Regions from separate parts of the Homo sapiens genome. Here region 1 is linked to region 2. Evidence: fine-mapped expression QTL. A gene starts in region 2. The other region holds a variant in brackets. All regions are shown on one strand. Distances are between the middles of the regions. Region 1 has its middle 27 kb from the start of ITPRIPL2. Region 2 holds the start of ITPRIPL2 (ITPRIP like 2).

The links. PIP is the estimated chance that this variant, and not a neighbour inherited with it, causes the effect.
Region 1: its variant is fine-mapped to the expression of ITPRIPL2 in blood mononuclear cells (TOPMed, PIP 0.92).

Annotation. Positions count from the first base shown.
Region 1 is chr16:19,139,493-19,142,396 of GRCh38, reverse strand. No RefSeq gene overlaps it. Among named protein-coding and RNA genes, the nearest start is that of ITPRIPL2, 27 kb to the right of the region's middle. The variant C/T (reference allele first, on the strand shown) is at 1,500.
Region 2 is chr16:19,112,279-19,115,123 of GRCh38, reverse strand. ITPRIPL2 (ITPRIP like 2) reads right to left here and starts at 1,160. Exons shown (of 1, transcript NM_001034841.4): 1 at 1-1,160. The coding sequence starts at 662. RefSeq lists silencers at 599-968, 1,059-1,158.

The sequences.
Region 1 (2,904 bases), 27 kb before region 2:
AAATACAAAAATTACCCAGGCATGGTGGCACATGTCTGTGGTCCCAGCTACTCAGGAGGCTGAGGCAGGAGAATTGCTTGAACCTGGGAGGTGGAGGCTGCAGTGAGCCAAGACGACGCCACTGCACTCCTGCCTGGGCAACACAGCGAGACTCTGTCTCAAAAAAAATTAAAAGTTGTTTAAAAATCAGTGCGAATGTTTTCCAGGTATCTACTCTGAAGGTTGCATAAGTGAAGCAAATCCGTGTGTAGGGTTGTCAGAAAAAAAAAATACAGCAGTCCCTAGGCCAAGGAAAAACTACAGCAATCCCTAGGCCAAGCCTGGAATAGACACAGAAGTTGCAAGCATGAGTATGATGTGGGCGCTGGTATCTAGCATCTCCCAGTCCAGTATGAGTCTCCAGGTATATCCCAGCCCCCGGCGTAGTGCCTGGCACTAAGCCACAGCACCATTACTGTTTGTTGCTTGAATGAGTGGGTGCACGACTTCATTCATTCAAGGTACACTTAATTAATTACCTACTGTGAGCAAGACCTTGTTCTAGACACTACAGATGCAAACACTGTACGTTAATTACAGTGAACAAAACAGACAGACACTCCCTGCCCTCATTATAATTATCTACCAGTGTTGGGGCAGGGGAAATGAAAACACAAAAAAGTGGCTGGGTGTGGTGGCTCACGCCTGTAATCCCAGCACTTTGGGAGGCTGAGGCAGGCGGATCACCTGAGGTCAGGAGTTGAGACCAGGCTCTCCAACTTGGCAAAACCCTGTCTCTACTAAAAAATACAAAAATCAGCTGGGCGTGGTGGCAGGCGCCTGTAGTCCCAGCTATTCAGGATGCTGGGGCAGGAGAATCACTTGAACCCAGGAGGCAGAGCTTGCGGTGAGCCAAGATCGCACCACTGCACTCCAGCCTGGGTGACAGAGCAAAACTCTGTCTCCAAAAAAAAAAAAATATATATATATATATATGTGTATATATATATGTGTGTGGGTATATATATGTATATATATAAGCAAATATATGGGTATTCAGATAGTGATCAGTACTACGAGAAAAATGAAGCAGATGAGGAAATTTGGGAGTATGAAACAAGGTGGGCAGTGTGATTGCAATTTTAAAGAAGGTGTCAGGGAAGCCTCGCTGGGTGACAGTTCAGCCAAGATCTTCAGGAAGTGAGATGTGTATAAAAGTATATCCGAAGGAATAAGAAGTGTCCTGGCAGCCGTAAGTAAATATCACAGCCTGGGTGCCTTACCCAGAAGACACTTATTTCTCATAGCTCTGGAGGCTGGAAGTCTGAGATCAAGGTGTCGGCAGGTTTGGTTTCTCCTGAGGTCTCTCTCTGGGGCTTGCAGGTGGCCACCGTCCCGCTGTGTCCTCACATGGTCGTCCCTTGCTCCTGTACTGTCTGAGTCCTAGTCTATTCTTATGAGGACACCAGTCATATTGGATTAGGGCCCAACCATGTGACCTCATTTTACATTAATTACCT[C/T]TTAAATGTTCTATCTCCAAATACAGTCACAATTCTGAGACATTGGGGTTTAAAATATCAACATAGAAATTTTAGGGAATGTAATTCAGTCCATAACAGTGAATGAATGAATGAATGAATGAATGAACCAGTCTGCTGCTTTGCTTATGTGTGAGAGAGTGAAGGCAGTCAGAGAAACATGGGACAAAAGGAACAGGGGATGAGGGGCAAAAAGCCACATCAGGAGAAAAAAACAGAGATTTGACATGTGCAGTTTTTCAATTCCCTCTTGGCCAATTCAAAATATGTTTTTCCCAGCTCTAACTCTTAATTATTTCCGGAAACGGTTTCATTAACTGCTGTCCTGCAGCAGGATGCTATGAAGAAATCTCTGAACTTAGAGGCAGAAGATGTGAGTTCTGCTCTGCTGGGTGACTTTGGGGGAAGTCACTAACCTCTCTGGGCCTCCTTTCAATGGGAATGGAAATCCCTACCCCCTCTCAGAACTGCAGGAGAAGTTCAGGGAGGTAACTGGCAGGCAGATGAGGGCTTTGTAAACAGGGAAATGTAATATAAATAAAAACCTAAGGTATTGCTGTGAAGCTTGCTGTGAAAACCACTGCAGACAGCTCATGCCTGGGGCCCTCTGGTCATTTCGAAGGGAGCTTATTTATTAAACTCCAGCTTTTCCCTGGTTGTTTTCTTCAGCCCTTCAGGATGATCAGAGAGCTGGGGGAGTGCAGGGCTGGGGAGAAGAAAGAAGAAAGGAGAAGAAAGAGAAATAGATTCCACCTGAAGCACAGAGCTGGTGATTTTTGCCTCATCGAGGATTCTTGCTGATATTGACCAGCAAGATGTTGACATTGATGGGAGCTGACATTGATGGGCACCCTCCTCATTAGGCTCTGTGCTAAATCCTCCCCAGGCATCAACTCACCGAATTCCCATAACACCCTCTGAGGTTAGGCTATAATCTACCCATTTTGCAGGTGAATAAACTGAGGTTCAGAGGCATTAAGAAATTGCCCAGGGTCAATTAAGAGGCAGAACTGAGCCCAGATCTGTCAGCTACTCTCTTAACCTTGACCTACACTTCCTCATCATTCCTCAAAGTGTCCTGGCATTTAGTAGGTACTAAAGACATGTAAGATCTCTAAATTCTCTAGTTTGAATCCCAGCTTTGGCGTTTTCCAGCTGTGTGAAGTTGGACAAGTTATTTTCTTTCTCAGAGGACAAAAATCCCTGCCCTGCCTACCTGTCAACTCCAGTACTTGCCAAGTATGAGTTGGAGGCTGTTACTTAACCTCTCTGAACCTCGATTCCTGTAGCAGTAACGTGGGATAATAACAGTTGATATTCCAAGGGTAAAGCACACAGCCTAGTGCCAGGCACATAGAAAGCGGTCAACCAGGCAGCTATCAATTCA
Region 2 (2,845 bases):
GAGGCCCCCGATGGTGAGGGTGGTGCCTTGAGGGCGCACAAGAAGCAGCCGCGGAAGGCCGGGGCCAGCGCTGGCTCCTCGCCCAGGCTCCGTGGCTCCAGCGCCACAAGCGGCGGGAGGCGCAGTGGCACCAGCACGTCGAAGCTGTCGGGCCGGCGGATTTTATGTTGCTCGTAGGCGCTGCCCACCTGGATGAAGTCTCCGCGGAAGGCCAAGGCCAGCGCTCCCCCAGGAATGAGACCGGGGGACCCCCGGGCGCGGCCAGCCCGCACCAGCTCGCCCACGATCCGGCTCACGTGCGCCTTGCTGTGGCCCAACACGTGCGGAGACAGGCGCACCTCATGCTCGTAGTAACTCTCCAGCAGGATGCTGAGGCCCGGCTCTCGGAAGTGTCTCGAGGAGAAGGCGGCGTGACCCTCCAGACGGGGAGACCCGGGCAGGAAGCGCTGCCGGACAGCGTGGCGACAGCGCAGGAGGACATAGCTGAGGAGGAGCAGGACGGCCACCTTAAGCAACGGGAAGCCGCCATCCACGCCGTCGGCGGGCTCGGCCCGGGCGCCCCCGCTTCCCCGCAGGACATGGTAGAGGCACACCAGGGCGGTGCACAGGCCGGTCACCAGGGGCCAGAAGACGCGTAGATTGAGGGTGTAGTGCACCGACATGCCGGGCGCCCGGGGCGGCGGTGGCCGAGCAGCCCAGGGGGCAAGCCCCGGCGGCGACCCAAGCCCAGCATGCGCACAGCGCCCGGGCAGCCCCGCTGTCCCCGTCTCCTCCTCCGCGGCGGCTTCCCGAACGCAGGCCCGAGGGAGGCCGCCCTCCAGCTCGGCCTCCTCTCCCAGCTCAAGTGTTCCTTCCAGCTGCGGCCCGCCCTGCGCTCTCGGGCCCCGGGCCGCGCCCTGCCCCGGCTGCGCGCTGAGTCCGGCCCAGCGGCCCTCCCCGCCCGGCGCCCCCGCGCGCCGCCGTCGGCCAGCTTCTGGCCCGGCCTGGCTCGCCTCCTACCCTGGGCGGCCCTCCTGGCTCTCCCGCCGCTCCTCTCCGCGCCTGACCCTGTTACTCGGACCCCGGGAGTTTCCTCTTCCGAGGGGGAGGCGAGGCCGCGCCAGCTAGCGGGGAGGAAATGCCGGAGTCTGGAGCCGAGCGTGGAGCTGGCGAGCCGGGTCGGCCCCCTCCCGGGCCTCCGCCTTAAAGCGACGCGGGGCGGCGGGAGGGACTTCAGGACGCTCTTGGAACTGGCCTCCCGCGGCCCACCCCCATCCTCCCTCCCCGAAGGCAGAATTGGGAAGGCCCTGATTCCGGGGCGGTAGCTTCGTCCAGGGAGCCTCTGGAGTTGCGCTCCCTTGAAGTTATACTGGGACGTTGAAAAGGAGAAAAGGGCGCACAGCCAGACTGTCCAGTCCTCCCCACCCCCACCGCACAAGCTGCGGTGGCGTGGCAGGCCCTGGCACAGGAGTGGCCCTTGCCGTCTGCCGCAGTCGTCTGTTCAAACCAGTATTCACCGAGCACCTACCATGTGCCAGGTCGGAGCCACAGTGCTGGGGAAATCATAGTTGACAAGATGGACAAGGTTTCTGTCCTTCGTGAAGCTTACAGCCTTGTAAAAATGGGAATCAAAAAAGGAAGGGGCTGGGCGCAGTGTCTCACGCCTGTAATCCCAGCACTTTGAGAGGCCGAAGTGGGCGGATCATTTAAGGTCAGTAGTTCGAGACTAGCCTGGCCAACATGGTGAGACCCCCCCCCCCGCCCCCCATCTCTACTAAAAATACAAAAATTAGCCAGGCGTAGTGGCACGCGCCTGTAATCCCAGCTGTTCGGGAGGTTCAGGCAGGAGAATCGCTTGAATCCGGGAGGCGGAGGCTGCCGTGAGCCGAGATCGCGCCACTGTACTCCAGCCTGGGTGACAGAGTGAGACTCCGTCTCAAAAAAAAAAAAAAAAAAAAAAAAAGTGGGGGGAAGGATTCCACAGCAAGAAAACGCTCTAAAATAAACAAAAGTGCCCGAGGGAGTGAGAAGGTGCTGGCTACCCTGTGGAAACCAGAGGATGACAGGGGTGACATTTGGCCTGAGACTTCATCGGAACATGCTGGTTCACCCCTGTAATCCCAGCACTTTGGGAAGCCGAGGCGGCGAGAAGATCGCTTGAGTGAGGCCAGGAATTCGAGGCTGCAGTGAGCTATGATAGCATCATTGCACTCCAGCCTGAGTGACAGAGCAAGACTCTTGTCTCTGAAAAAATAAAATAAATAAAATGAAATGAAATTAAAATAAAATTATTTTCCCAGTGGAGGAAAGGGGCACAAACAGGTTCAGCTCAGGCAGGTTCAGCTGCCCCCCTTCCCCCCTCCCCCACAAGGTTACACAGCCTTTGTAGAGCTGGGCAGAAACCAAGGGGTGGAACTCCCAGGAGGGGGCCCAGGGAAGGTCTCTTCCTCATCTGCTGGGAATTTTGGGGGTCCTTTGTCTGGGTCTACATTGGAACCTCAGTCCTAGGAAGCTTGTTTTGTTTCATAACAGGGAGCACTTCCTGAAATAATCTGATCTATTTAAATAATTGTCTTTCTTTATTCACACTCATTACACCTTCTTTGCTGGCACTGACCTTTAAAGAGAGCAAGGGTGAATATATTAAAACATGTTAGAACCCAGCTGCCACCTGGGAACCAGGACTCAAAAGATGGCTTCTGGGTTGTTCCCAGTAAATCCTAAATTGGGCCCCTGAGAGCTAAGCAGATCTGCCTTCAGATCCCATCTACTAATATTAGCTATGAGATCATCATCTACCAGTCAAGATTCTTAGGTTTGCAAGTGACAGAAACACAGCTCCAACTGGCTTAAGTGCACGCACGCA